Linked DNA regions of Homo sapiens. The protein of the gene in region 1 purifies or fractionates together with the protein of each later gene. This does not show direct contact. Each region holds a gene or a part of one and is shown in the gene's direction. Other genes may lie near its edges.

What was found.
Region 2: the proteins of ZBTB47 (region 1) and DDX24 purify together in Homo sapiens (affinity purification with mass spectrometry; one large-scale study listed by BioGRID and IntAct). This does not show direct contact.
Region 3: the proteins of ZBTB47 (region 1) and MAK16 purify together in Homo sapiens (affinity purification with mass spectrometry; one large-scale study listed by BioGRID and IntAct). This does not show direct contact.
Region 4: the proteins of ZBTB47 (region 1) and DHX30 purify together in Homo sapiens (affinity purification with mass spectrometry; one large-scale study listed by BioGRID and IntAct). This does not show direct contact.
Region 5: the proteins of ZBTB47 (region 1) and HP1BP3 purify together in Homo sapiens (affinity purification with mass spectrometry; one large-scale study listed by BioGRID and IntAct). This does not show direct contact.
Region 6: the proteins of ZBTB47 (region 1) and CENPC purify together in Homo sapiens (affinity purification with mass spectrometry; one large-scale study listed by BioGRID and IntAct). This does not show direct contact.
Region 7: the proteins of ZBTB47 (region 1) and NOL8 purify together in Homo sapiens (affinity purification with mass spectrometry; one large-scale study listed by BioGRID and IntAct). This does not show direct contact.

What each region holds. Positions count from the first base shown.
Region 1 is NC_000003.12:42,656,550-42,661,424, forward strand, and holds part of ZBTB47 (zinc finger and BTB domain-containing protein 47), read left to right. Parts: intron 1-1,725; coding exon of another isoform or gene 1,726-1,806; coding exon 1,807-3,279; intron 3,280-4,875. UniProt on the Homo sapiens protein: May be involved in transcriptional regulation.
Region 2 is NC_000014.9:94,053,703-94,057,202, reverse strand, and holds part of DDX24 (ATP-dependent RNA helicase DDX24), read left to right. Parts: intron 1-2,018; coding exon 2,019-2,207; intron 2,208-3,500. UniProt on the Homo sapiens protein: ATP-dependent RNA helicase that plays a role in various aspects of RNA metabolism including pre-mRNA splicing and is thereby involved in different biological processes such as cell cycle regulation or innate immunity.
Region 3 is NC_000008.11:33,487,466-33,492,340, forward strand, and holds part of MAK16 (protein MAK16 homolog), read left to right. Parts: intron 1-912; coding exon 913-962; intron 963-1,054; coding exon 1,055-1,164; intron 1,165-1,268; coding exon 1,269-1,333; intron 1,334-1,522; coding exon 1,523-1,674; intron 1,675-2,819; coding exon 2,820-2,874; intron 2,875-4,875.
Region 4 is NC_000003.12:47,805,550-47,810,424, forward strand, and holds part of DHX30 (ATP-dependent RNA helicase DHX30), read left to right. Parts: intron 1-4,875.
Region 5 is NC_000001.11:20,742,308-20,745,807, reverse strand, and holds part of HP1BP3 (heterochromatin protein 1-binding protein 3), read left to right. Parts: intron 1-151; coding exon 152-265; intron 266-716; coding exon 717-1,011; 3' UTR 1,012-3,500. UniProt on the Homo sapiens protein: Component of heterochromatin that maintains heterochromatin integrity during G1/S progression and regulates the duration of G1 phase to critically influence cell proliferative capacity.
Region 6 is NC_000004.12:67,517,265-67,522,139, reverse strand, and holds part of CENPC (centromere protein C), read left to right. Parts: intron 1-2,637; coding exon 2,638-2,923; intron 2,924-3,771; coding exon 3,772-3,984; intron 3,985-4,875. UniProt on the Homo sapiens protein: Component of the CENPA-NAC (nucleosome-associated) complex, a complex that plays a central role in assembly of kinetochore proteins, mitotic progression and chromosome segregation.
Region 7 is NC_000009.12:92,298,587-92,302,207, reverse strand, and holds part of NOL8 (nucleolar protein 8), read left to right. Parts: intron 1-385; coding exon 386-657; intron 658-1,397; exon of another isoform or gene 1,398-1,401; coding exon of another isoform or gene 1,402-1,451; exon of another isoform or gene 1,452-2,191; coding exon 2,192-2,318; intron 2,319-3,253; coding exon 3,254-3,324; intron 3,325-3,621. UniProt on the Homo sapiens protein: Plays an essential role in the survival of diffuse-type gastric cancer cells. Acts as a nucleolar anchoring protein for DDX47. May be involved in regulation of gene expression at the post-transcriptional level or in ribosome biogenesis in cancer cells.

The sequences.
Region 1 (4,875 bases):
CTGGGGTAAGGGGTGTAGTGGAGAACTCAAGGAAGATGGTAGCCTTGGCCAGGGGCCTGGCCAGACTGGGATGTGAGGGAACACAGGATGGCTGCTGCCCTGGCTGCTGGGTGTAGGGGGCAGGGTCCAGGGCAGGCCTGGAGACAGGTGGCCCCTGGTGGCTCAGGGAGGCTCCTGCTGAGGCCCACGGTAGGTTTCTCATTCAGGTGACTGAGAAGTGGAGCTCAACCACCACCACCCCTGCCCAATCCCAGCCTACCCACTGCTCTCCTGGCGATGGAAGGCCTGGCATGGGGAAGGGGGGCGGTAGGCTGTGGATGGATGGGGCCAGGATTCATCCCAGGGTCCCCAGGGAGGCACTGACAGCTATGGAGCTGATGGTTTTGTGGCCATCAAAATATTGTGGCAAGGTACCTCCCGAATGCAGGAGGCTCAGACCTGGTTGGGCAGGCCCTGAGGAGAGCCAGAACTTGGAACCAGTGGTGCTGGTCCAGCTGGGCTGGTGGTTGGTGGATATTAACAACATCTGCACATCACTGTGTGATGGTTCTCGTGCAGGGACTGGGCAGGCTGCCTGTCTGTGCTGCCCACCTTTTGGGGAGGCTGCTGTGGTAGAGCCGGGGTGACTGAGTTGGCTTCTATTCCAGGCAATTCACAGGTGCTGGATGTGGCCCACAGGCCTGATAGTCTGACCCATCAGACATTGAGGGCCTCCGCTAGGGCTCTGGAAGCCCCAGATGGTGTGGCCTCTAAGGCAGGGCTTTCCCAGAGCCTGTGGACATGGACCGTACCTGACCTGGGGTCTGGGGGTCTACCGGGAAAAGGATCTGGGGCAGGCCTTGGGGGCCTCCTGCCTGCAAGCATGGTAGGCAGGTTCCACAGCTGTGTCCTTCCACCCCTGCAGAGCCCCTGAGTGAGAGAGAGCTGCTGGGGGCTAGGCCTGAGGCTGCAGGCAGGGGTTGGGGGCAGCCTGGCCCAAGCCCTGGCTGTGATGAGGAGACCTCACCAGGCAGTGCAGCAGGACCAGAGTGGGGAGAAGGTATAGGCCCTGAGCCTGGATTTCTTCACAGGTTTCAACTTCTGCAGCAGCCACATGGCTGTTGCGATGAGGGGTTCCCTCAGGTGCTACCCCTTGGATTCTGTAGCCAGAGACTGGGCAGTGAGCAGTGAGCCCGGCTTCTGTTCTTGAGGTGTTTGGGGCTGGGCAAGCTTGCTTTTATTGGTATGTGTGAGTGAATATGTGGAGAGAATCCACGGGGCTGAGGAAATGCTGAAGGAATGCCTGTGGCCCTCCTGGGGTGACCACCTGGTCCCGGTGTGCCTGCGATGGTCCTGGTTCTAGCACTGAAAGCCCTGCACCCCAGAAAATGCCCAGGTCCCTGGCAAACCTGGATGGTTGGTCACTGTGGTCTCTCTTTCATCCCCTTTCCTTCCCTTTCCCTTCCTGGGATGACTTTTCCCATTTCCCAGGAGATGACCCAGAGGCCCAGAAAGTGACAGGACCTGATCTTCAGCCTCAGAGGGTCACGAGTGGAGCCTGAGCTCTGAGGCAGCTCACTCAGGCTTGAATCCCTTCCTTGCTAGTTTCGGCTCTGTTGCTGTAAAGTGGAGCCACGAGTGATGGGCTGCCTCCTGGATGGCTGGCAATGCTGGGAGTGGTGCTGGGGGAAGGGCGGGCAGGGGCCCACTGGCCTTGACCCACTCCTGTGCCCTCTGTCCCCGCAGTTGCTGGTTGAGAAGACAACTGACTCCCCGGCGGCTGAGTTCTCGCTGGTGGAGGACGTGGCGCTGCACTTTGCCTGCTTGATGGGCCGCCTGAACGAGCAGCGCCTCTTCCAGCCTGACCTCTGCGACGTGGACTTGGTGCTGGTGCCCCAGCGCAGCGTCTTTCCGGCACACAAGGGTGTGCTAGCCGCCTACAGCCAGTTCTTCCACTCACTCTTCACCCAGAACAAGCAGCTGCAGCGTGTGGAGCTGTCCCTGGAGGCACTGGCACCTGGTGGCCTGCAGCAGATCCTCAACTTCATCTATACGTCCAAGCTGCTGGTCAACGCGGCCAACGTCCACGAGGTGCTCAGCGCCGCCTCATTGCTGCAGATGGCTGACATCGCTGCGTCCTGCCAAGAGCTGCTGGACGCCCGCTCTCTAGGCCCACCAGGTCCGGGCACTGTGGCCCTGGCCCAGCCGGCTGCCAGCTGCACTCCAGCTGCGCCGCCCTACTACTGTGACATCAAGCAGGAGGCCGACACCCCAGGCCTGCCCAAGATCTATGCCCGCGAGGGCCCTGACCCTTACTCGGTGCGTGTTGAGGACGGGGCAGGGACTGCTGGTGGCACAGTGCCTGCCACCATTGGGCCAGCCCAGCCCTTCTTTAAGGAGGAGAAGGAGGGTGGTGTCGAGGAGGCCGGTGGGCCCCCAGCCAGCTTGTGCAAGCTGGAGGGTGGAGAAGAGTTGGAGGAAGAGCTTGGGGGTTCTGGCACCTACAGCCGCAGGGAGCAATCCCAGATCATCGTGGAGGTGAACCTCAACAACCAGACACTGCACGTGTCCACGGGGCCAGAGGGGAAGCCAGGTGCCGGGCCAAGCCCAGCCACCGTGGTTCTGGGCCGGGAGGACGGGCTGCAGAGACACTCGGACGAGGAGGAGGAGGACGACGAGGAGGAGGAGGAGGAAGAAGAGGAAGAGGAAGGTGGTGGCAGTGGACGGGAGGAGGAGGAGGAGGAAGAGGGTGGCAGTCAGGGAGAAGAGGAAGAAGAGGAGGAGGACGGGCACAGTGAGCAGGAAGAGGAAGAGGAGGAGGAAGAGGAGGAAGGGCCTAGTGAGCAGGATCAAGAGAGCTCTGAGGAGGAGGAGGGGGAGGAGGGGGAGGCTGGGGGCAAGCAGGGGCCACGGGGAAGCCGAAGCAGCCGGGCAGACCCCCCTCCCCACAGTCACATGGCCACACGGTCCCGGGAGAACGCCCGGCGCCGGGGTACCCCTGAACCTGAAGAAGCTGGGCGGCGGGGTGGGAAGAGGCCAAAGCCACCCCCTGGAGTGGCCTCTGCATCGGCCCGAGGGCCGCCAGCCACTGATGGGCTGGGGGCCAAGGTGAAGCTGGAGGAGAAGCAGCACCATCCATGCCAGAAGTGCCCACGAGTTTTCAACAACCGCTGGTACCTGGAGAAACACATGAATGTGACCCACAGCCGCATGCAGATCTGCGACCAGTGCGGCAAGCGCTTCCTGCTGGAGAGCGAGCTGCTGCTGCACAGGCAGACAGACTGCGAGCGCAACATCCAGGTGGGCCTCACGTGGCTGGGGGCAGGGCAGAGGCTGTCCAGGTGGGGCTAGGCCATAACTGGGCTCTGGGCACCTAGTGTCTTGCTGACTGCATTACCTAGGTGGTCTGCGGAGACCAGACTTAGCCCCCAGACAGGCTGGCCCAGGCCCAGTTCTCAGGGTGGTTAGAGCTCAGGGGTAACATCAAGCCGAGCTTCCTGGGAGAGGTGGATAGAGTTGGGCGCATGAAGAGATGTGCAGAGGATTGGAACAAACAGTACCCTTGGCCAGAGGGACAAAGGGGACACATGGACTTGGGAGGATGAGAGTGGAGAGTTGTCTGAGCAGACAAGGCCAGAAGACAGGCCACTCTGGGTGGGATGAGTCAGACGGGGTTTTAACAAACACGGGGGCTGTAGGAAGGCCAGCAGGGCCACTGTGTATAGTTTCACAGGTTGTGCACTGCAGCAAGTGAGCACACGATGGGAGGAGGGGTTTGCCCAGAGGGATGCCATCCTCCACTTCCCACAAAAGTGCTGTATGGAGGAGGGGGCAGCCCAGCAGGAGGCAGCCCCCACTTTCAGCTCTTTGGGGATGCCAGCTCCCATGGGCCTGGGAAAAAGGGATTGGGTGAGAAATTTGGGAAGAGCAGAGGCTGCTGGGGTAAGCAGGGGAGCTGAGCTGGCTGCTGGGCCTTGAGCCAGCCTGAGTCTGTTTGTGCCAGCCTCACTTCTCAGGGTGGGGTGGCACAGGGCCAGCCAGGCTCCCACGGGTGGTTTTCACCTCTTCTGGCCCAGGAGAAGGGGGAAAGGTAGCAGGTAGGTGGGTGCTAATTGCCTGCGCTAATTGCTAATTGCAGTGCCCTGTGGAGAAAGTGTTACCCGGGGGTCACCTGCTATCCTGCCCCACCCTTGTGTACCTGTGCCCACTTGCCCGCCTGCTGGGCTGCCCTTTGATGCTCTAACTGCTGCGCACCTGAGTCTCCCTCCTGAAGGAAAAAGAAGCTTCTGCCCCATCCAACCTGAGTACCCTGACCAATTTCTGCCCAAGCCTTGGCCTAGCCTCCATCCCTGTGGGGTGTCCTGCATAGATGGGCAGGACAAGGGTCCAGGAGAACAAATGGGGGGATATGGTCCCCAAGATCCCCCACCACTCTCTGTGCCTGATGGGACCTTGAGCCTCCTGCTGTCCTCCTCAGCCAACGCCTCTGGGACTCATCCTCTTGGCGATATTCATGGTGTCATGGCACAGGTCCCAGCAGGAGGAGGCAGCAGTGATAATGGCTCACTCTGTGGGACCTGTTATCTCTGCGTGTAGCCTCCATACCAGAGGGCGCCCTTCAGCTAGTTGTCTGCCTTACCTCTATAGACAGACAAAGGGTGATGCCTTTGGAAGCCCTTGTTGAAATGAGCCCAGAGTGGGGAATTTCCTGGAAGAGGTGACCCCTGACCCTAGTTAACTCAAGGATGAAGGAGGACACCAGGCTGTGTGTTTGGGGGTGTTTAAGGAGTTTTCATCCCCAACCTTAGAAACATCAGAGCTGGCTGGCTGTTGGCATCAAGGGCTCTCCAGCATATTTCAAGTGGGAAAACTGAGGCCAGACGGGGGCAGTAGCTT
Region 2 (3,500 bases), on another chromosome or scaffold:
GCCAGGCTTTGAATCCCCAGTCTGCTGCTTCATAGTTGGTTAGCTTTAGGCAAGTTATTTAGTACCTCTGGTTTCAGTGTCATTGTTTGTAAACTGGAAGTAACAACTAGCTACCCCATAGGGTTATCCTGAGAATTAAATTGAGCTGATGCTGATGAAGCCGGTAGCACAGTGTAAGTACTCAATAAATGGTAGCTGGTATGGCATTATCATTTTTCCTCTTTAATTCCTCTTTGTGCTTTTAAAAATCTTTTAGGCTGCTGTTTCAGAGAAACAACAAACTCACAGTGCTTTTTCCCATTCTCTCACTTCACAACAACAATCAACATAGAAGACTTCTGTAACCAAATGTGTGGGCGTTTTTCACCACATATCAAGCAGCAGCCACCAGCTGGGTGTCCTCTAATTTAGTTTCATTTTCTGATGCTGTCTTCCTGGAGATAGCCTCAGATCCCACAAGATGTCCCTCCTCCCCGCAACCAGTCGATAAGTCAGGGCCTCTGGAACTTCTGACCAACCAGCTTCAAGTTGGGGTTCTCATGACCCCCCGCTTTGGGTTCAATTAATTTGCTACAGCAGCTCTCAGAACTAAAAGAAACACATTTACCAGTTTATTATAGAGGATATTACAAAGAATATAGATGGGGAGATGTATAGGCTGAGGTACAGGGGAAGGAGCATGGAGTTGCCATGCCCCTCCTGGGTACACCACCCTCCAGGAATGTCCACATATTCAGCTTATTCAAAAGTTCTCCAAACTCTGTCCTTTAGGAATATTTATGGAGACTTCATTGGGTAAGATGATTAATTAAGCCATTGGCCTTTAGGAAGTAGTGCTGCAAGTCCCAACCTTCTAATCCTGCCTTGGCCTTTCTGGTGACCAGCCCCCATCCTGAAACTACCTGGGGGGCTATCAGCCATCAGTCAATAGTTTGTCATTAGTATACAAAAAGACATTACTTTTGAGATTCCTTTGCCAGGAAACAGGATGAAGAGCAAATACATATTTCACTGTATCACAGGTGCTAATTTTGGTTTAGCAAATCTCTATAGTCTTCCCTTTTTTGGGGAAGGAGCTGGGTCAACCTTTGTGGAGTCAAGATGAATCAAATACAGTCCCAGCCCCTAAGAAGTATTGGATCCAGCAGAGGAGGTGAGATGACCACAGCCATAATTTAAGGCAGAAGGTATTAGAAAATTACAAAATACAATGGAAGAGAGAGGTAACTTCTAGTTTGGGAGGTTGGAAAGTACTTTCTAAAAACATGCCTGGCATTTAAGGGTGAAGAGGATTTGGACATATAGAGGCATTAAAGGAAGGAGCAAAGAAATGGGCAGTGTTCAGGGGCACTTGGCTCACAGTGAGAAGAGGGTATGTGTTGGGAAAGGAATAGTTGCTGAGGCTGGAGGGGTAAGTTGAGGGCAAGTCACTAAAGGCGCTGAGTGTCAGGTTGAAGAGTTGGGCCTTTATCCTGTAAGTAAAGAAAGGCAAATCTCATTTCTAGAACTCTTATGAACAGTTCATAGTGGCTACTTAAAGTACTGTATTGAAAAGGATACCTAGATGTTATCTGGGCCCAGTGGAGAAGACTGTTGTGCTTGATTAATGGTGTGTGCCAGGGGCTCAGTGGGTGTGTTAGCAACCATGCCACATTATCTATGGATAAAATATATATAGGAGTAGAGACCGTATAACCCAGGGATTAACATGGTCTGTGGAGCTGGGCTGCTTAAATCCTGGATAAGAAGTGACTGCTGTGGTCTGGCTGCATGGTCCTGAGGACCTGAACCAGGGTCAGGGGCATGGGAGGGAAGAGCCTACACAGTGAATGGGCTAAACCTGGGAACATTTTGAATGTGGGACTAAGAGAGGAGGGCTAGATTGCTCTACAATGCTGCAGAAGTTTCTACCTGCCTGGCTGGGAGGTAGGAGGGTCTGGTTTGGGGATGTGGCCCTGAGGAGAGGACCAGTGTTTGGCAGTGGCCATGTATTGATCTCCCAGTTCTTCCTGTGGCAGGTCCCACGTACCTCGGAGATTTATGTCCACCGAAGTGGTCGAACTGCTCGAGCTACCAATGAAGGCCTCAGTCTGATGCTCATTGGGCCTGAGGATGTGATCAACTTTAAGAAGATTTACAAAACGCTCAAGAAAGATGAGGATATCCCACTGTTCCCCGTGCAGACAAAATACATGGATGTGGTCAAGGTAGAAAGCAGTTAAAACCCCAGTGCTAATGAAGGGATTGTGCTGCTCCCTTGCAGAGCACCTTGCTGTGGGACTCTGGCAGCATAACCCTTGAAAACTAAGGAATGGTTCTGCCAACAGCTGAACAAGGAGACTTGTAGAAAGGATTGAGAGCAACATACCTGGGAAAAGGGAGAAAAGGGGAGTGACTGAAGGTGGGAGGCATTTTCTCCCTGAACCATTTCTTCCTTCTCTGGCCCTGAAGTCCCCCCTCCTCACCAGACAGTGCAGTGGTCATGGCTGTCTGGATATCCTGTCAGAGGGTTGTAGACAGTGTGGTTAGTGTTTCCTGCTGAGGCAGATGCTACAGGTTTGGCACATCCCTGGAGCAGGTGCCAGTAAATTCTGTCTTTTGGGTTTTAACTCAGCAGGCATTCCCCAGGTAGGTGCCGCTTACCATGGGACACTGTATTAGTGACCAAAGTGGGGTGGGTTCTCCTTCCCAGAGGTTTGCCAGCTGTGAATAAAGTTCAGGTACAGTGGAGCAGTATGGAATTACTGGGCATATGGTTACATTGGGAGGAGAAGAGGTTCTATCCCAGCTTCCTGCTGGCAAAGATGTGGAAGGGTACAGAGGAGGTGGAATTCCAGGAATTGAGGGAGCAAAACCATGGCACAGTTCAAGGAATGTTGGCTTCTCTGGCTCAAAAGGAATATTAGCTGTGTGGGGAAATAGGGTGGAGATAAGGATGGAAAAGTGGAAATCATAGAGAATTCCCATTAGTAAGGAGGATTAGGAGCCACCCAGGCTTCCCTTGGTTTCTTTCCCCACATCACAAGATCCTTCTCATTTTGCCACTGCACTGTAACCCCAAAACCCTCTAGAGGGAGAGTTGAAATGTTTTATCTTAGCTCAGCTGTGGAAGCAAGCTGTGGCATCTGCGTAAAGACTTCACTTTGGTTACCTATAGGTTGGCAGTCAAACCAGTAAGGGTTTTCAAAGGATGTGGCTGTTCAGGTTGATTGTTGGGAAAGCTGGCAGTTGTGTTTAGATGTGTACACACAGACGGGTAATGGTTGCCCACTGGACTTTTATCAGGAAGCAATAAATGCATTTCAACAGGAACTGAACTGCATCTCACCACTGATCTCAAGAGCTTTTTATTTATTTATTTTTAATTTTTAATTTTTAATTTTTTTTTGAGACGGAGCTTTGCTCATGTTGCCCAGACTGGAGTGCAGTGGCACAATCTTGGCTCACCACAACCTTCGCCTCCCGGGTTCAAGTGATTCTCCTGCCTCAGCCTCCCAAGT
Region 3 (4,875 bases), on another chromosome or scaffold:
CCCAGGCTGGAGTGCAGTGGCGTGATCTCGGCTTACCGCAACTTCTGCCTCCTGGGTTCAAGCGATTCTCCTGCCTCAGCCTCTCAAGTAGCTGGGATTACAGGCACCTGCCACCACACCTGGCTAATTTTTCTATTAGTAGAGATGGGGTTTCACCATGTTGGCCAGGCTGGCCTCAAACTCCCAACCTCAAGTGATCCGCCTGCCTTGGCACTCAAAGTGCTGGGATTACAGGTGTGAGCCACTACACCCGGCCCATGAGAGCCTTTAATAATGGATAATGAACATAAGTAAAAAGGGAAAGTTACGAAGTATATAAAATGTGATTTCACAGAGTATGTCAAAAAAAGTCTGGAAAAATATTTACAGAATAGTAATGAAATTTTATCTCTGGGTAATGGAGTTATGATTATTGCTCATCTGTATTTAGCTTTTCTATAAGAATCTGCTGGGCTTTTTTGTTTTGTTTTGTTTTGTTTTGAGACGGAGTTTCACTCTTGTTGTCCAGGCTGGAGCGCAATGGCACAATCTCGGCTCACCGCAACCTCCCTCTCCTGGGTTCAAGCGATTCTCCTGCCCCAGCCTCCCGAGTAGCTAGGATTACAGGCATGCGCCACCATGCCCAGCTAATTTTGTATTTTTAATATAAACAGGGTTTCTCCATGTTAATCAGGCTGGTCTCAAACTCCTCACCTCAGGTGATCCGCCCAACTCAGCCTCCCAAAGTGCTGGGATTACAGGCGTGAGCCACCGTGCCCGGCCTTGCTGTTTGTATTTTAAAAAGTAAACAAGTCAGGCTATTTTACAAAACATTTCTTCCTCTCATTCCTGTCCTTGGGCATTGCCTTCTTGAATTAATATAGTATCTCTTGGGGCAGAGGATTTGAAATGGGCTTTTACTTTGTCTTGCAGGTTATCTGGGATACACTAGGAAACAAGCAATTTTGTTCCTTCAAAATAAGGTGAGTCTCAATTTACAACTTGGTCAAAGATTCCTTCAGTTGCCTCTTTGGCAACCCATTTTATAATCTTTGTTTCTTTTCTCCCATTCTAGAACCAAGACTCAGAGCTTCTGCCGAAATGAATATAGCCTGACTGGACTGTGTAATCGGTCATCCTGTCCCCTGGCAAATAGTCAGTATGCCACTATTAAAGAAGAGAAAGGTAACTCCCCAGTTTTAACTTCTAGAAGAACTGCTCCACAGCTTTTACAGGGATGTTCTTTAGTTTCTGTAAATAACACTAAAGCTATTTTACTTTATCTTCAGGACAGTGCTACTTGTATATGAAGGTTATAGAACGAGCGGCTTTTCCTCGGCGTCTCTGGGAACGGGTAAGCCTTACAACAAAACTACAGTGACCGCTGATCAAGAGCATCAAAGCCACATGCTTGACCATGATGCCCAATTCCATGACCATTAACTTTTGAGGCCATCCTCATTAGGCCATGGGTGTCACTGACAGTGAAAACCTAATGAATCATTTACACTTGCCCTTCAAACTTCCTGTTTCTGTTTGGTAGGTCCGGCTTAGTAAAAACTATGAGAAAGCACTGGAGCAAATAGATGAAAATCTGATTTACTGGCCCCGTTTCATTCGACACAAATGTAAGCAGAGATTCACCAAGATCACCCAATACCTAATTCGAATTAGAAAACTTACACTAAAGCGACAGTAAGTATTTGGATCATTCATTATTTTTAAATCTCTCTTTTTATGGAGCTTGTTTTGAAGTTGAGAAATTGTGAAACTTCGGGGCTTTCTATTCAACTTTGTGGAGTCTGTTATGATGTACTAAAGAGAAACTTTAGCTTTGACTAAAGGTGTGCCCTTTGATATGGCAGGACTTTTAAAACAGTAGAATACAACTTGATTATCACCCTCCTTGTCTGAAAATCTTTCAGAAAATTTTATTTTCTTTTTTGTTAAGACGGAGTCTCACTCTGTCGCCCAGGCTGGAATTTGCAGTGGCGCGACCTCAGCTCACTGCAACCTCCATCTCCCCGGTTGAAGCAATCCTCCCACCTCAGCCTCCTGAGCAGCTAGGATTACAGGCATGGACCACCATGCCTGGTTAATTTTTTTTGTATTTTTAGTAGAGATGGGGTTTCACCATGTTGGCCAGGCTGGTCTAGAATTCCTGACCTCAAGCGATCCGCCTTAGCCTCCCAAAGTGCTGGGATTACAGGCATGAGCCACCATGCCCAGCCTTCAGAAAATTTCCTCTATGACCCCCGAGGGAATCTTAACTTTAGAGATTTGAAAATGATCTAAGACATGTGACTATACAGGAATGTAAGAACTTTACTCTGGATTCACTGAAAACTAATTTTTAAAAGTGATATGAAATCCCCAGAATTAACAGAATACCTTCTCTAGGACTGTTAGGCCCTAATGCTTTTTGACTGTGATCTACATAGAATGCTAAAGATGATGTCAGACTTCGACAGAAAATTCTTTTTTCTTAGTTCACTGAAGTCTTAATTTTAGCATGGTGAATGCCCTGAGAATCCCAGAATGCCTGAACAAAAATGGCCGGATTAAAATACATGTAAAAATATATGACTTTTTATAGTATTAAATTTCTAGAAGCGTTTAGTGTATCTTGCTGTATTGAGCTGAGCCCTACAGCACCAACCTTGGGCTCCAAGGCTTGTTTGAATCGCTAGCCTCCGTGAATGCCTGAAGCTCAGCCATCCTGCCCTGCACATGAGTAGACTTCCATTTTAGTCACCAATTCCAATCCTTTTTTCTTCTCATCCTTAAAAAGGAACACAGCACATGACAGTGGATTTTCTGATATATTTTCTTTCCCTTAGGAGGAAACTTGTTCCTTTGAGTAAGAAGGTGGAGCGTAGGGAGAAAAGAAGAGAGGTAACTTATTGTTGAGATATTCATACCTTCTACATTTTCTTTCTGGGGGTCTCTTATAGATTCAGTCACCATCATTATGTAAACTGTTGAGGCCTTGGATAATGGTTCACTAATAGATAACTATTAGTTGCCTAAGACATTTAATTTTTCATATTTTAAGATTATGATTTTCAGCACAGGTTAAAGTATGTGTGCTTTGGGGATATATGTAATGGAGAACAGAAAGAATCCACAACTCCTTTTTCTGAATTTCTTGTGGTCAAATATTTCAGACTTCAGAATTTTGATGTTGCATATTTTACATACTACATAAAACCTTTAGTAGATTTTGAGCATTCTAATCAAATGGAATTTCTGCAGTGAAATACAATACAGGCATGCAGTGAGTAATAACATCATGGAAAATTGGGTATCCGTCCCCTCAAGCATTTATCCTTTGTGTTACAAACAGTTCAATTATCCTTACAGTTATTTTAAAATGTACAATTAAATAATTGACTATAGTCACGCTGTTGTGCTGCTAGCAAATACTAGGTCTTATTTCATTCTTCCTATTTTTTTTAGCGGGGGTACCCATTAATCATCCCCACCCCCATTACCCTTCCCAGCCTCTGGTAACCATCCTTCTACTCTGTATATCCATGAGTTCAATTGTTTTGATTTTTTGATCCCACAAATAAGTGAAAATGTGCAGTGTTTGCCTTTCTGTGCCTGGCTTCTTTCACTTAACATAATGACCTCCGGTTCCATCCATGTTGTTACAAATGACAGAATCTCATTCTTTTTAATGGCTGGATAGTACTCTATTGTGTATAAGTACCATATTTTCTTTATCCATTCATCTATTGATGGACACTTAGGTTGCTTCCAAATTTTGGCTGTCGTGAACAGAGCTGTAACACACATGGAGTGTGGGTATCCCTTTGATACACTAATTTCCTTTTGGGTCTGTACCCAGAAGTGGGACTGCTAGATGGTATGGTAGCTCTAGTTTTAGTTTTTTGAGGAAGCTCCAAACTGTTCTCCATAGTGGTTGTACTAATTTACATTCCCACCACCAGTGCACAAGGGTTCCCTTTCTCCACATCCTCTCTAGCATTTGTTATTGCCTGTCTTTTAAAAGATAAAAGCCATTTTAACTGGGGTGAGATATTTCATTGTTTTGATTTGCATTTCTCTGATGATCAATGATGTTGAACACCTTTTCATATGCCTGTTTGCCATTTGTATGTCTTCTTTTGAAAAATGTCTACTCAAATCTTTTGCCTCCCCAATCCCTGCCCCCTGCTTTTTTTTTTTTTTTTTTTTTTTTGAGACAAGGTCTCACTCTATTGTCCAGGCTGGAGTGCAGTGGTGCGATCTTGGCTCACTGCAACCTCTGCTTCCTGGATTCAAGTGATTCTCATGCCTCAGCCTCCCAAGTAGCTGGGACTACAGGTGCATGCCACCATGCCTGGCTAATTTTTATATATTTTGTAGAGACGAGGCTTCACTATGTTGCCCATGCTGGTCTTGAACTCCTGGGCTCAAGCAATCCAACCACTTCAGCCTCCCAAAGTGCTGGGATTACAGGTGTGAGCCACCATGTCTGGCCCTTTTATTCACTTTTTAATCCAATAATTAGAATTTTTTCCTATAGAGTTGTTTGAGCTCCTTATATAGTCTGGATTTTGTTTTGTTTTGTTTTTGAGATGGAGTCTCATTCTGTCACCCAGGCTGGAGTGCTATGGGGCAATCCCAGCTCACTGCAACCTCTGCCTCCCAGGTTCAAGCGATTCTTGTGCCTCAGCCTCCCAAGTAGCTGGGATGCCAGGTGTGCACCACCATGCCTGGCTGTTTGTTTTGTATTTTTAGTAGAGATGGGGTTTAGCCATGTTGGCCAGGCTGGTCTCGAACTCCTGACCTCAGGTGATCTACCTGCCTCAGCCTCCCAGAGTGCTGGGATTACAGACGTGAGCCACCGCGCTGGCCTGTATTCTGGTTATTAATCCCTTGTCAGGT
Region 4 (4,875 bases), 5.1 Mb from region 1:
TATTTTTGAGACAGAGTCTCGCTTTGTCCCCCAGGCTGGAGTGCAGTGGCGCGATCTTGGCTTGCTGCAACCTCTGCCTCCCAGGTTCAAGCAATTCTCCTGTCTCAGCCTCCCAAGTAGCTGAGATTACAGGCGCCTGCCACCATGCCCAGCTGATTGTTTTGTATTTTTAGTAGAGACTGGGTTTCACCATGTTGGCCAGGCTGGTCTCAAACCCCTGACGTCAGGTGATCAGCCTGCCTCAGCCTCCCAAAGTGCTGGGATTACAGGCATGAGCCACTGTGCCCAGCCAGAAGGGTATCATTTTTAGTCATTGTGGAGTCTCTGTCCTGGAACCATCCCCAAGTGACTCTACCTGGAGTTAAATTGTATTTCATTATGCAGGAAATCTTGATATAATAGCATTTTACTTATCTGTAAATTACTTAAGAGACACATTGAGCTACAAGGTTTTTTGTTTTTGAGACAGTCTTGCCCTGTCGCCCAGGCTGGAGTGCAGTGGTGCAATCTTGGCTCACTGCAACCTCCACCTCCTTAGTTCAAGCAATTCCCCTGCCTCAGCCTCATGCCACCAAGCCCGGCTAATTTTTTTGTATTTTTTTTTTTTTTTTTAGATGGGAGTCTCACTCTGTTGCCCAGGTTGGAGTGCAGTGGTGGGATCTTGGCTCACTGCAACCTCTGCCTCCTGGGTTCAAGCGATTCTCCTGCCTCAGCCTCCTGAGTAGCTGGGATTACAGGTGCGCACCACCACGCCTGGCTTATTTTTGTATTTTTAGTAGAGATGGGGTTTCACCATTTTGGTCAGGCTAACCTCAAACTCCTGACCTTGTGATCTGCCTGCCTCTGCCTCCGAAAGTGCTGGGATTACAGGTGTGAGCCACCGTGCCTGGCCAATTTTTTTCTTTTTTTTTTCTGAGATGGAGTCTCACTCTGTCACCCAGGCTGGAGTACAGTGGTGCAATCTTGGCTCACTGCAACCTCCGCCTCCCGGGTTCAAGCGATTCTTCTGTCTCAGCCTCCTGAGTAGCTGGGACTACAGGCGTGCACCACCACGCCTGGCTAATTTTTTGTATTTTTAGTGAAGATGGGGTTTTACCATGTTGGCCGTGCTGGTCTCGAACTCCTGACTTTGTGATCCACCTGCTTCGGCCTCCCAAAGTGCTGGGATTACAGGAGTGAGCCACTGCGCTCAGGCGTGCCTGGCCAATTTTTTTTGTATTTTTAGTAGAGACAGGATTTCACCATCTTGGCCAGAATGGGCTCGAACTCCTGACCTCAGGCAATCTGCCTGCCTCAGCCTCCCAAAGTGATGGGATTACAGGCGTGAGCCACCAAGCCTGGCCCACTACAAAGATTTTTAAACATTACTGCATTATGGCCGGTCGTGGTGGCTGATGCCTGTAATCCCAGCACTTTGGGAGGCTGAGGCGGGCGGATCACAAGGTCAGGAGTTCGAGTCCAGCCTGGCCAACATGGTGAAACACTGTCTCTACCAAAAATACAAAAATTAGCCAGGCGTGGTGGCGGGTGCCTGTAATCCCAGCTACTAGGGAGACTGAGACAGGAGAATCATTTGAATCCGGGAGGTGGAGGTTGTAGTGAGCAGAGATCATGCCATTGCACTCCAGCCTGGGCAACAAGAGCAACACTCTGTCTCAAAACAAAACACCATTACTGACTGCATTACAAGGAAGACCGCTTTCTTTTGGATCTCTATGAAATGTTCTAGAGCTCTGTAAATTCTGTCTCTAAAAGATCCTGTCTTGATTCTCATAGTATCGTTTTTTTAGATTAGTACAGGAAAAAGAATGGTACATGAGCCTAAATTGACATATTGGGCTAGAGGTTTAGGGACTTTTAAAAAGCAAAACTGGCCGGGCACGGTGGCTCATGCCTGTAATCCCAGCACTTTGGGAGGCCGAGGCAGGCAGATCATGAGGCCAAGAGATCGAGACCATCCTGGCCAACATGATGAAAGCCCATCTCTACTAAAAATCCAAAAAAATTTAGCCGTGCATGGTGGCGTGTGCCTGTAGTCCCAGCTACTTGGAAGGCTGAGACAGGAGAATAGCTTGAACCCGGGAGGTGGAGGTTGCAGTAAGCTGATATTACGCCATTGCCCTCCAACCTGGTGACAGAGCGAGACTCTGTCTCAAAAAAAAAAAAAAAAAAAAAAAAGCAAAATCAAGAGTCTATTTGCAAGCAAATTAACTTACAAATTTTTTTTTTAGAGGCAGGGTCTCACTGTGTTGCCTAGGCTGGTCTTGAACTCCTGGCCTCAAGCGATCCTTCACCTGGGCGTCCCAAAGTGCTGGGACTACAGGCATGAGCCACCCCACCTAGCCATTAAATTTTGCTTTTTTTTTTTAAATTTTTTTGAGACAGAGTTTCGCTCTTGTTGCCCAGCCTGCAGTGCAGTGGCGCAATCTCATCTCACTGGAACGTCCACCTCCTGGGTTCAAGTGATTCTCCTGCCTCAGCCTCCCACGTAGTTGGGATTACAGGCATGCACCACCACGTCCGGCTAATTTTGTATTTTTAGTAGAGACGGGGTTTCTGCATGTTGGTCAGGCTGGTCTCAAACTCCCGACCTCAGGTGATCTGCTTGCCTCGGCCTCCCAAAATGCTGGGATTACAGGCATGAGCCACTGCACCCGCCTTACTTTTTGTTTTTTTTTTTTAAGAGAGACAGGGTCTTGCTTTGTCACCCAGACTGGAGTGCAGTGGCGTGATCACAGCTCACTGTAAACCTCAAAATCCTGGGCGAAGTGATCCTCCTGCCTCAGCCTCCTGAGTAGCTAAGACTGCAAGCATGTACCACCACACCTGGCTAATTCTGAAAATTTTTTTTAGAGATGCGGTCTCACTATGTTGCCCAGGCTGGTCTTGAACTCCTGGTCTCAAGTGCTCCTCTCATCTCAGCCTCCCAAAGCGCTGGGATTACAGGTGTGAACCACTGTGCCTAGCCAGTTTACCATTTCGTAGCAATAGAGTATTGTTTCTTTTTTTTTTTTCTTAAATTTATTTTTTATTTTTATTTTTTTGAGATGGAGTCTCGCTCTGTTGCCCAGGCTGGAGTGCAGAGGTGTGATCTTGGCTCACTGCAACCTCCGCTTCTCGGGTTCAAGCGATTCTCCTGCCTCAGTCCCCTGAGTAGCTGGGATTACAGGCATGCGCCACCACAGCTGGCTAATTTTTGTATTTTTACTGGGGGCGAGGTTTCCTCATGTTGGCCAGGCTGGTCTCGAACTTCTGACCTCAGGGTGATCCGCCCACCTCAGCCTCCCAAAGTGCTGGGATTACAGGCATGAGCCACTGCAACCAGCCGAGTTTTGTTTTTTGTTTTTGTTTTTTTTGAGACAGAGTCTCACTCTTGTTGCCCAGGCTGGAGTGCAATGGTGCGATCTCGGCTCACTGCAACCTCTGCTTCCCGGATTCAAGCGATTCTCCTGCCCCAGCCTCCCGAGTAGCTGAGATTACAGGCGCCTGCCACCGTGCCTGGCTAATTTTTTGTATTTTTTTAGTAGAGACGGGGTCATGTTGGTCAGGGAGTATTGTTTTTTAAGTAATATTCACTTAAAATGTTTTAGATTTTATAATATTCTGGTTTTCTTTTAAATTAGAATGTCAAATTACACACTTTTTATTTTCATTTGGATAGAAGGTGTCTATGGAATGTAACTTCTTTTTTTTTTTTTTTTTTTTTTTTTGAGACGGAGTCTCACTCTGTCGCCCAGGCTGGAGTGCAGTGGCACAATCTTGGCTCACTGCAAGCTCTGCCTCCTGGGTTCACGCCATTCTCCTGCCTCAGCCTCCTGAGTAGCTGGGACTACAGGCCCGCACAACCATGCCTGGCTCATTTTTTTGTATTTTTTTAGTAGAGACGGGGTTTCACCGTGTTAGCAAGGATGGTCTCGATCTCCTGACCTCGTGATCCGCCCACCTCGGCCTCCCAAAGTGCTGGGATTACAGGCGTGAGCCACCGCGCCTGGCCGGAATGTAACTTCTTAAAGTAAATGTTATCATTGTTGATATTGTATTGAAGTTTTCTCTGTGATATACCATATCCTATGGGCTGAAATTTCCAGCATCCCTTGGGGAGTGGAGGCCATCAGGGCAGACCTGCTATGGACCTGAAAGATTCCGCCCCAGGTCAGCCCTCCACTCCCCACCTCCCCACAATTTGAGAATGAGAGGGAACAGGAGTCAGGAGCCGGAGTGTTGGCCCCAGTAGACTCCAATCAATGTTGGACATGATTCTGATTGGCTAAACACTGTGTAGATGTTTTTAAACAAAGTCCATTTAAGGTTACTGCACTAATCAAGGAGTACTGGATTATAAAAACATCTATAAATCTGAGTTTGAGTATTTTTTAAAACAAAATTGTTAAACCAGATGTGTTGCTTTTTTTTCTTGTCATCTCTAAGTATAGTCCTCAGTTAAATATACTAATAAGCAAAATGCACCAAAACTTTTGGCTAATAGTTGTGCTTTAACTTAATATTTGTTATTTCATAGAGACTGCTATGAAAAGCTTTTTATTCTGAATCACTGTACAGTTATTCTTTGATCCTGTCAGTCAAATCTCATTTTTAGGGTCTTGACTAGGTTTTATGAAAGCCCAGTAAGGCAGTTTGCCCATAAGGCAGTCATCAGTCCTGTTTCCTGATGCCACATGACAGAAGGGGTCCATGTAGAATTTCGTTTCTTCCTGGAAGTCCCAAGGAAACCTGCAAGTATTATGATAACTAGGAAGGAAACCTGCAAGTATTATGATGAACTGGGAAGGAAACCTGTAAGTATTATGATGAACTAGATAGAACTACATGTCTCTCATGATGAAATGCATCTCCCTCTGTTTAACAGGATATGGG
Region 5 (3,500 bases), on another chromosome or scaffold:
GTAAATTGTAACCTGATACGTGTAACCTAGCTTGACATTTTTGGGAAGGGTGGGAAGAAGTGGGATATGTCCAGGTAAGAGCATCTAGGTTCACATTATTTTTCTTGTTTTATATGGGACTTGTGTTTTAATCTAATTTTTCCCCGTATAGCCCAGGAGTTCTGTTTCCGAAGAAAGAGCCAGATGATTCTAGAGATGAGGATGAAGATGAAGATGAGTCATCAGAAGAAGACTCTGAGGATGAAGAGCCGCCACCTAAGAGAAGGTGTGGACATGTGAAAACCCCTTGTGGGGAGGACACTAAATACCTCAGAGCTGAAAAATAGTGCTATAGGAGGGGCTAAAGCTAAAAAGCATTTCAGAAACTCAGGATCCTTCTCAAGTTCTTTATATAAATTTGGATTGATCTTCTCCTTTGAAAATCAAGGGCTCCAGACTTTTAGGGCAAGCCTGTGTGTATCCATAGTTTAGTTATTCAAAGAAAAATAATTACATATTTCCCTAGGAACAACGTCATGAAATTGTGTCTAGACTTCATGAATTGGTTGAATTTTTATACAATTTTAGTAAAATCTCTAGTAAAAAATTGTCACATTCCTATTCTTAACGTAAGTGACCACTTCATATGCCGTTTCTCTTTAGAAAGCATCTGGTTGTCCCAACAAAACGAATCTCTTAAGTACTAAATGACGGCCTTTGCTCTTTGGTTCTCACAGGTTGCAGAAGAAAACCCCAGCCAAGTCCCCAGGGAAGGCCGCATCTGTGAAGCAGAGAGGGTCCAAACCTGCACCTAAAGTCTCAGCTGCCCAGCGGGGGAAAGCTAGGCCCTTGCCTAAGAAAGCACCTCCTAAGGCCAAAACGCCTGCCAAGAAGACCAGACCCTCATCCACAGTCATCAAGAAACCTAGTGGTGGCTCCTCAAAGAAGCCTGCAACCAGTGCAAGAAAGGAAGTAAAATTGCCGGGCAAGGGCAAATCCACCATGAAGAAGTCTTTCAGAGTGAAAAAGTAAATTTTATAGGAAAAAAGGGTATCATGATGAAATTCAAAATCTTATTTTCTAAGGTCAGTGTGCATTTGTTTAGTTTTGATGCTTTTCAAATTACATTATTTTCCTCCCCTATGAACATTGTGGGGAGGGACTCTAAATAAACCAGTTTAGGCATTTGCTAGCTTTAGGTGCTTTTATTGGTGCCTGCCCTTTTCCTTGTTCATTTTAATTTCTGCAATAATCCTGGACTTTCCTAAACTATGTAATGTATACTTGTCCTTTTTCTCTGCCTCCCCCAACCCCCTGTTGTTTTTATGGTCAGCTTTGCCTTTTTTTTTTCTTCCAATTTTATCTAAACAGTTGCAGAGATTTTTATATTTGTAGAAAGCATCAAGAACGGTATGCCAGTCAGGTCCTGGAAGTAAAATGGAGGCACAATATAGCACTGACTGAGTTGTAAAGCCTCCTGCCTGGAGACTTCAGTTATAGCTGTAATAATTAATCTTATTTATAAAAGCCACTCCACTAACCTTTTCTCTCCAACTGTAAACACAGAGACAGCTTTGGGAATAAGCCAAAAACAGGGTGATCTCATTAGATTTTGAAGATATATGACTCCTTTGGGCTACATTTCATATTGATCAATTTCTAGGTATTTTTCACTGGCCCAAAGTATTGCATTCCCTTAACAGCAAGCACAAGTTCTCTATATCACTTGTTTTTTGTTGTTGTTGTTGTTGTCGTCGTTGTTTTGAGACGGAGTCTTGCTCAGGTGCCCCGGAGTGCAGTGGTGCAATCTCAGCTCACTGCAACCTCCACCTCCTGGGTTCAAGCAATTCTCCTGCTTCAGCCTCCCGAGTAGCTGGGATTACAGGTGTGTACCACCACGCCTGGCAATTTTTTTGTATTTTTAGTAGAGATGGGGTTTCGCCGTGTTGGTCAGGCTGGTCTCGAACTCCTGACCTCAGGTGATCCGCCTGCCTCGGCCTCCCAAAGTGCTGGGATTACAGGAGTGAGCCACTGTGCCTGGCCTATCCCACTTGGTTTTTGACTGAAGGGGAAGTGTAGAAATATATTGATTTGTGATTTCTGGTGTCACCTGTGTTACCAAAAATCAAAACAAATCTTTTTTATTTTTTATTATTATTATTATTTTTGAGACAGAGTCTCGCTCTGTCGCCCAGTGTGGAGTGCAGTGGTGTGATCTTGGCTCACTGCAAACTCCGCCTCCCAGGTTCAAGCGATTCTCCCACCTCAGCCTCCTGAGTTGGGTCCTACAGGCGCACACGACCACGCCCAGCTAATTTTTTGTATTTTTAGTAGAGTTGGGGTTTCACCATGTTAGCCAGGATGGTCTCGATCTCCTGACCTCGTGATCCACTCACCTCAGCCTCCCAAAATCCTGGGGTTACAGATGTGAGCTACCACTCACGGCCCAAATCTTCTTGATCATATGTTTAAATATATTTTTTAATATTTGGAGCATGAGTTGTCACTTCTTGTTTGCCTTTTTTATAAGGAAATGTTGGAGAGTTACATCATTGCTAATGTAGAAATGTTAAGTGGAAAAATATACAGTTTGGTAAAATAAACTAGATTCTACATTTATTTGTGGGTTTTTTTCCCCTCCTTTCTTTCCACAGCACTTTTGATATCAAGCAAGTGGCTTCCTTTTTGAGATATTAAAAAAAAAAAGAAAAGGAAAAAAGTAAATGAAGCCCAACTACCTAACCCTTTCTTATTTGTATTTGTTTTAGTATTGTGAAGTTGTGTTAAATAGTACTAGCTAGAAATACAAATTTCTGGTTATCATTTCTCTTCCCTGTGGCACTTGACATTTTAATTGTCTTAAAGTTTTTGAAGTACATCTTCTGGCCCCTTGAGTACTGCCAGAGGCAAAAGATGTTTGTTTCTTATTCATTCCACTTTTGTCTCCTGGGATCCCTTCTGTAGCCTAAAGTATGGCTGGGAAATGGACTTGAGAAGATTGGCTTGAATTAGATCATAATCATGTGTGATCCCATCATGAATTCATTGGAATTTGTGTTGCATGTAAGGCAATCTTTCCTGTTGTAAATCTTCCTTTTTTAATGTACATATATTTTGAAAAATATGAATAAACATGAAATTTTAAAAGCTGCTGAACCGTAGCTTATATTTAAAGGTTTTGAGTATAGTATATCCTCAGAAGTAGCTAAGTGTCGCCCTCACTTTAAGTCTTTTCTACTCCTTGAAATGAACACCATCATTTTCCTTTTTAAATACAAGCTCCAGTTCATGTGTTTTGGAATTCTTATAGAGGGTAAACGATGTTTCCAGATACATTGAATGCTAATTACTTAATGAATCAAAGGTTTAAAAAATCATTTTGTATTTTATTAAAGACTGCTTCCAAGATCATAGAGTACAATCATGTTCAATAAATGTTCAATATTCAGATAAGTCCTTGGACTAGAAAAAATTACAGTACTGCAAAAGATAACAGATAAATCCTAGACATCAAATTCTAG
Region 6 (4,875 bases), on another chromosome or scaffold:
CACTTCCTTTGCTCTTTTTTAAAGAAGTGTATTTTAAAATATTGTATAATATAAACATAAAATTGTCCACTTTATTTCTGAGTATACAGTTCAGTAGCATTAAGTACATTCACATTGTTGTGAGGCTATCACCACCATGAATCCATAGAACTTCTTTCATTTTTCACAACTGAAACACTGTACCCATTAAACAGTATCTCTTTTTCCATTAGCCCTGGCAACCACCATTCTACTTTTTTCTGTCCATGAATTTCAGACAGAAAATTTATCTGTGACTGGCTTATTTCACTAAGCATAATGTCTTCAAGGTTCATCCATGTTGTAGTATGTGTCAGAATTTCATTCTAAGACTGGGTAATATTTCATTGTATGTGTATACCACTTTTTATCTATTAATCTGTTGATGGGCACTTGGGTTGTTTTCGCTTTTTGGCTATTGTGAGTAATGCTGCTATGAATATTAGTGTGAAAGTATCTCTTTGAGTTCCTGCTTTCAGTTTTAAGTTTTTAAGGATCCACTGTGCACTTTTCATAGTGACTGTCATTCTACATTCACACTAGCAGTGCATGCACAAAGGTTCCATTTTTTTCTACATCAACAGTTGTTATCTTTTGTTTTTATAAATAATAGTCATCCTAATGGGTGTGATGTAGTATCTCATTGTAGTTTTGATTTGTTTTACATCACTGTTATTAGGAAAATTTAAAATAATATTTAAAAATCACTACTTACTGATAATGGCTAATATCCAAAAAACTTTTTTTTAAAAAATGCTACTTTGAGAGTTTCTTTTTCATTTGTTACAAGAGGATTTGTAATTGATTATTAAAGCATTTTATGATGTTTGCTTTAAAATTTATTGTTAAATAATTTTAAAATCTGATTCATCTCATTTATGTCTATTGATCATTATTTCTTACTTTTTTTTTTTTTTGGTTTGTTTTGGTTTTGGTATGACGAGTTGTTTTGATTGTATTCCTGAGATTTGGTTACTTATGTTAGGGGATTCTTAGACTACTTAAATCTTTTGTTACAGCACATAGTTGCCCTATTTTGGTTTAATGTATAGGTTCTTTCCTGTGTTATTTATTTATTTATTTATTTATTTATTTATTTGTTTATTTTTTGAGACAGAGTCTTGCTCTGTCGCTCAGGCTGGAGGGCAGTGGTGTGATCTTAGCTCAGTGCAACCGCCGCCTCCTGGGTTCAAGTGATTCTCATGCTTCAGCCTCCCGAGTAGCTGGGATTACAGGCATGTGCCACTACGCCTGGCTAATTTTTGTATTTTTAGTAGAGATGGGGTTTCGCCATGTTGGCCAGGCTGGTCTTGAACTCCTGGCCTCCAGTGATCCACCCGTTTTGGCCTCCCAAAGTGCTGGGATTGCAGGCATGAACCACTGCGCCCAGCCCCTCTTTCCTAGTTTTATGAGTTTTATTTTCAATGATAGTTAAGTGTTCAGAGTAATAGTGGTATTTTGTTCTACTTCATTTTCTGATGCTGTTAGGATTCTAGCTCAGTTCCTGTTGGTGCTGTCTGGGGTGGGTAGAAGATGCCTTTTGATGTCCATGTTCACTTGTGTGGGGTTCTGGTTAGAAGCTGCTGGTCCTGGGTTTCCTTATATCATTGGGTGGAGGACAGGGGGTTGCTGGCCTCTCTTACGCTGTTCTTGCCTCAGATTAGACTGTCTGCTGGTGCCCTGGTTGTAAAGTAGGGACTGGGATGGCCTGGGGTGTCAATACTATCAGTGGATCAAAATGTTGCCTTGGGCTGTGAAGGTCAGGGGTTTCACTACTCTACAGCTTCATGTGGGTCATACCGCCTGCCATCTATGATTGTAGAAGCGGGACTGGCTTGGTATGAGCTCCTTTACTGCTACAGTCCCATAGCACAGCCCAGGGCTTTGTTGCTTTGCCAATGCAGGTAGTAAGGAGTGCTCCATGGCCGAGAGTGCTGAATGGGGCTTGAGTTTCCTCATTAGGTCTTCGGTGGGTTTACCTTGTTCAGAGAATGCATTTCCACCCAGCCTCCACCCTGTCTTTCACCTATTGGTGGTTACAGGTTATACTAGCAACCAGTCCAGGGGTATATGGGAGACAGACAGAAAACCTAAGGCTTGTCTGTTTCTGGTCTTGAGCTTCCTAGCTAGTCTACCTTTTTTTCTTCCAGCTTTCAGAGTCCTGTTGTTGATTGATGGATAATTTCCAGGGAAGTTAGTTGTATTTAGAGGGAGAAGCAGGGAAATGCCATCTCGTTCTGAAGGGTGAGGGTTAAGAGAATATGGATACATTCTTTTAAATTTTCTCATTATAGATAAATGTTCATATACATATATACTGTGTATGTATATATACACACATGCTTATGTTGTATCTCTCTATATCTGTTATATCTATATTCCATGTGTGTATGTGTAAATATATCATCTAGCTGCCCTAGGTCACCAATTTTTAGCCCAAAGATAGAAGAATCTTAAGTACTTACTTATTTTAATCATAGATCTTTGATTCTAATCTTAATGACTTTGAGTTTTCTGAAAACTATTTCTGATTAAATTATTGCAGAATTTTTAAAAAGCCTGCTTGATTCTCTTATTATTCTTTTAATTGACAAATATCTTTATATAATTTTCTTCTAGTTCAGGCCCATGAAGTTCATCAGAAAATTCTGGCAACTGATGTTAGTTCCAAAAATACACCTGACTCGAAAAAAATATCAAGTAGAAACATAAATGATCATCACAGTGAAGCTGATGAAGAATTTTACTTATCCGTTGGCTCACCTTCTGTTCTTTTGGATGCAAAAACATCTGTATCACAAAATGTTATTCCATCTAGTGCCCAAAAGAGAGAGACTTACACTTTTGAAAATTCAGTAAATATGCTGCCTTCAAGTACAGAGGTTTCAGTTAAAACCAAAAAAAGGTAACATTTTATTTAAATAATGTTAACGCACTTTAAAAATTTTACTTTTTGTATTAAAAAATGGTAATTCAATCTTGTTATATTATTTTACACTAAGGAAGGAGGAATATTAACATGTTATGAGAAAGTATACATTTAGCATATATTCAGTTTGTAATAATTAAGGAAGGGCTTAAAGTGTACTTCAGAGAAGTTTAGAGGTTAACTTTTCTATAGTCTGGAATAATGTGTTTTCTCTCTGATAATATTTGATTGCTTCCTAAGAGAAACAATTTGTATTTTCTCAATATTTTTTGTAATTGCAAGTGTAGATGTGTATCAGGTCACTTCAAGGGTAGCAGAGCATAAGTATTATTGAGGATGCTATGCTTTGTGGACAGCTGGTTTCTCTTTCTTGACCTTACCTTTGGCCTTTAGGAAACAAAGTGGATTCAAGGTCTTTTGCATTTGGAGATCTCTGTAATGAGTGTAATTTCTATTTAGAGTATTGTATGATTACTGGAGCCAAGGAGTTAAGTATATTCTAAGACTTTGATATTCAAAGTTTGGTCTGTCACAGTGCTCTAAGATTGCCCTGAGAACCATTGCCTAGCTATACATTTCATTGATGTATACTTTAGCCATTATTTTCTCTTTCATGTTTTTCTATTGATAAATACAAAAGTTAATTTTCCTGAGCAGTTTATCTTATGTATTTGGAATGCACAAATCAGCATTTATGTCTTAAATAAATGCCTAGTACAGAATTTTAAATTGGTCTGTATTGTCTCTGTAAAGGAGTTCAGGAAGACTTATAACTCAAGAAACGTTACGGGAGCATTCAGCTTACCCTCCTTTTAACCTTTTAGGTTAAACTTTGATGATAAAGTTATGTTAAAGAAAATAGAAATAGATAATAAAGTATCAGATGAAGAGGATAAAACATCGGAAGGACAAGAAAGAAAACCATCAGGATCATCTCAGAATAGAATACGAGATTCAGAATATGAAATTCAACGACAAGCTAAAAAAAGTTTTTCAACATTGTTTTTAGAAACAGTAAAACGAAAAAGTGAATCCAGGTGAGTTATTAAGAAACTGCCCTTTGAGACATTTTTCTTTTATATTCTATGAACCATATATAAGGATTCCTAATGCTATTTAACTTAGAAATAAGTAATTTAATTAACAAAAATTTTAATTGAAATTTTTTCTGACCTGTAAGGAGAGATGGTTTTTTACCAGTCAGTGAGTCACTCCCAAAGCCATTTTTTAATAGATACTAAATTAGACTTGAAAGAAAACAAGTTTATTCAGTTTTCATTGCCTTCTGGTTTGTCTGTGTGATATCAAAGACTGAAGTCAATGCAGTATTTATGTATGTATGTATGTATTTATTTTGAGACAGGGTCTCGCTCTGTCTTCCAGGCTGGAGTGCAGTGACGCAATCTCGGCTCATTGCAACCTCTCCCTCCTGGGTTCAAGAGATTCTCCTGCTCAGCCTCCCGAGTAGCTGGGATCACAGGCACCTGCCACCACGCCTGTCTAATATTTGTATTTTTAGTAGAGATGGGATATCCCCATGTTGGTCAGGCTGGTCTCGAACTCCTGACCTCAGGTGATCCATCTGCCTCGGCCTCCCAAAGTGCTGGGATTACAAGCTTGAGCCACCGCACCCGGCCGACAATGCAGTATTTAGAAATCGTTATGTTAGGCTGCCCTTATGTCACTATCATAGGTATCAGAGTGCTAGTGAATATACTAGGAAGTTTTTATTGCTGGGCGCGGTGGCTCATGTCTGTAATGCTAGCACTTTGATAGGCCGAGGCGGGTGGATCACTTGAGATCAGAGGTTCAAGACCAGCCTGACCAACATGGTGAAACCCCATCTCTACTAAAAATACAAAAATTAGTCGGGCTTGGTGGCACATGCCTGTAATCCCAGCTATTCGGGAGGCTGAGGTAAGAGAAAC
Region 7 (3,621 bases), on another chromosome or scaffold:
CTTAGAAGTCATGTGGCTTACAGTTTTCATTTTGCCTATGAGAAAACTGAGGCCTAGTGAAGCTAAGTGATTTCCTTACTTATACCTAGGTGTATAGTTTAGGCATAATTTCTGAAATGTAGTTCAGAGAATGATAGAATATGATTCATGCAGCTGTTTGAGATTTGTGTAAAAAAAGCTTATTGATCAAGATTTTGCTTCTATTAGTAGAGTTCTATATGTAGAGTTTTACTTATTTTATTTCTCTATTTATAAGTAGAGTTTTATATTCTGGTTGTTGATAGGATAGAATTAAAGTTGTCCAAGATTTTTTCTTTTCTTGATTTCTGGAAATTTCCCAAAACTTGTTTCTTTGTGATGCACATGTCTACATATGTCATTTCAGTAAAGCAAAACGAAAAAAGAAAAGGGAGGAAGCTGAGAAACTACCTGAGGTGTCTAAAGAAATGTATTATAATATTGCTATGGATCTGAAAGAAATATTCCAAACTACAAAATATACCAGTGAAAAGGAAGAGGGCACACCCTGGAATGAGGACTGTGGTAAAGAGAAACCTGAGGAAATCCAGGACCCTGCAGCTCTGACCAGTGACGCTGAGCAGCCCAGCGGGTTCACGTTCTCTTTTTTTGATTCAGACACTAAAGACATAAAGGAAGGTACTTTTCTTTTTTCCCATACTTTTTTATTTTATTCAGTTTGAACTTAATTGATTGAATCTGCATTAAGTGTAACAGATTTCATGTTAGCTGAAGAAAGGACTCTTTCTTCTACCTAGAAGATTTGAGATTTAGTGTCACAGGAGCATAAACACGATGTTCCTGAAGCTGTGAAAGAAACTATTTTTGCATTTAAGGAAGCAAATCTCTACTAGCTGCCATATGAAGGGAAGCCAGAGAATAATGTACAGCATCTTTTCTGTTAAGTAAAACGTCATGAAGAAGTATAGTAAATCACATAAAGAGCTTTGTATCTTAAATGAAGCTGAAGATGCTATGACTTATGGAAAACTAGTGCTATATATAAGATAAAAGAAGATATAGGTAACCTTGGTTTTACACAAATATGCCATGTCATCAATATGCCAGTTATTGCACAGTTTATCCTTGAAGATTTGCCAGAACCTAGAGAGAAGTATAAACACTAGTACATACAGTTTTGCATTTCATTTCAAGAGGCTTACCTCTAAAGGCCAACATGGGCCACAGGTTAAAAAACACCTGACCTGTTCCTCACCCAGGGTTCCAGCTTTCTGGAAGTTCCCACTGTAAAAGCAGGTAATACCTATACAGAAGAATACACACATACCTAACTACAATGATTCTACTTTAAAGATCAGCAGTTAAAATAGCATACATGTGTTTGGTAGATTAAAATAATTTTTTTTTTTTTTTTGGAGACAGAGTCTCTGTCACCCAGGCTGGAGTGCAGTGGTGCAATCTCGGTTCACTAGCAGATAATACCAACTCCGTGGTACTTTAAAAGGAAGTATAACAATCTAGTAGTTGTTCAAAAAGTATTGCAAATAAGACTTCATTTTCTTGTCTATATAAACTGTTGAGTAGAGTTGGCATGATGTAAATAGTAACGATAGTTTTTCTAACTTTGAGAGCAAAACGTGAGAAATTGACCTTGAAACGAGTCCTAAAGACATCAGCAACTTGAAAGATGTTTTTTAAGTACTTGGGAAATTTTGAAGACTTGTGAGGTGATTGTCCTGATCTTATAGCAGTAGTTTTTCCAGCAGTTCTAGCAAAAAGTTTTGGGTATTGAAAATGTAAAGATATATTCCTTTTCTCATTTATAAATAGACAAGAGGGAAACCTGATTTCCCTGTATCCTATTATATTTTAGGCTTCTCATGCAAGCACAGATGCCATGGTTATTTTAGGTGTCATTTTTAAAAATTATATAGCTCATTTATAAACCTTTATTTTTTAAACCTTTTTTATATTACTGCTGTCCTTATCAGATCATTCTAGCAATGCCAAAATTATGATAGTGGCTTCTGAAAATATTTGAAAAATCTAAAAAGATGATACTACCTATTTTTTTGATACTATTTTAAATTAATGATTAACATATTGGAACTTTAGATATGTCTACGTGGTAAAAGTAATCAAATGAATGTGTTCAGAAATACTTGGCTGTGGAGTTACAATCCCATCATCTTTTGTTGTCATAACGATATAGAGACCTACAGAGTTGAAACAGTGAAACCTGGAAAGATTGTCTGGCAGGAAGACCCTCGTTTACAAGACAGCAGTTCAGAAGAGGAAGATGTTACTGAAGAAACAGATCACAGAAACTCCAGTCCTGGGTAAACAATTTGTTTCTTTGCAGGCATAGTTCATAATTTGTAAAATCTGAATTAGACATACTTTAGAAATATTTTAGCTTCTCTTCACATGACAACTAAATTGTCTTAGCTTCTTTTTTTATTTTATTTTTTTTTTTTGAGACGGAGTGTTGCTCTGTCGCCCAGGCTGTAGTGCAATGGCATGATCTCAGCTCACTGCAACCTCCGCCTCCCAGATTCAAGCAATTCTCCTGTCCCAGCCTCCCAAGTAGCTGGGATTACAGGCACGTGCCAACCACACCTGGCTAATTTTTGTATTTTTAGTAGAGGCGAGGTTTCACCATGTTGGCCAGGCTGGTTTCGAACTCCTGACCTCAAGTAATCTGCCCACCTTGGCCTCCCAAAGTGCTAGGATTACAGGCGCCCTGCCACTGAGCCTGGACATCTCAGTTTCTTTAGAGTGTTCTCTAGCCTTTTTATAATGGAGAGTGTGTTTCCTTTTCCATGAGATTTGGATAGCACTAAGGGGAAGATAGTTTGTGCATAGAAAAGGGAAGGTGGCCTGACAGTGAAGTCACTGGTCTGGAAACAGGATGTTGCAGTTGACTGGGTGCCTACCCATGGGAGGCACTGGCAAATGGGGTAGCAATGGTGGGAGTGAGAGTATCAGCAACCAACACAGGAAAGATAGAGGTTCTACTTAAACAAGTCTTCATTATCAAAGCTTCAGATAGAAGAATGTTAGAGGGAGGGTTGTTTTAACTCAGGGCAAAATGCACAAAATACAAAGCAGATATATTTAAGAGTCTCGCTCACCTGGATTCTAGGGGGAAATGAAAAAAGATATATTTAAGAAATAGTGTATTTATGTTTTGAATGTAAATATTTCTTCTTAAATATTGAAATTAAACCAACCAATACCTATTTTTCTCTCTCCTTTGTCCCTTTCTTTTCAGAGAAGCATCATTACTTGAGAAAGAGACCACTAGATTTTTCTTTTTCTCTAAGAATGATGAACGACTTCAAGGTCAGTCCATTTTTTTCATCAAATTACATACATAGAACAGGTAATAATACAGCTACAGTAATTCACATCCAGGAATTTTGACCGTTGGTAATGTCATGTGGTTTAACCCCATTTGTTCACACTGATGAATGTTAACTTGTAAAGCTGTCAAGGTCTGAGAGCTCCCCACTCACCACTTTCTTTGCCCGCTCATTCTCATCAACAAAGGGTTGTTTTGTTCCAAGGGCTTCCTTAGATGTTAGACATATAAAACCCCTAAGTTTTAGTGCCATAAATTCCATGTGAAAACTCAGGCTG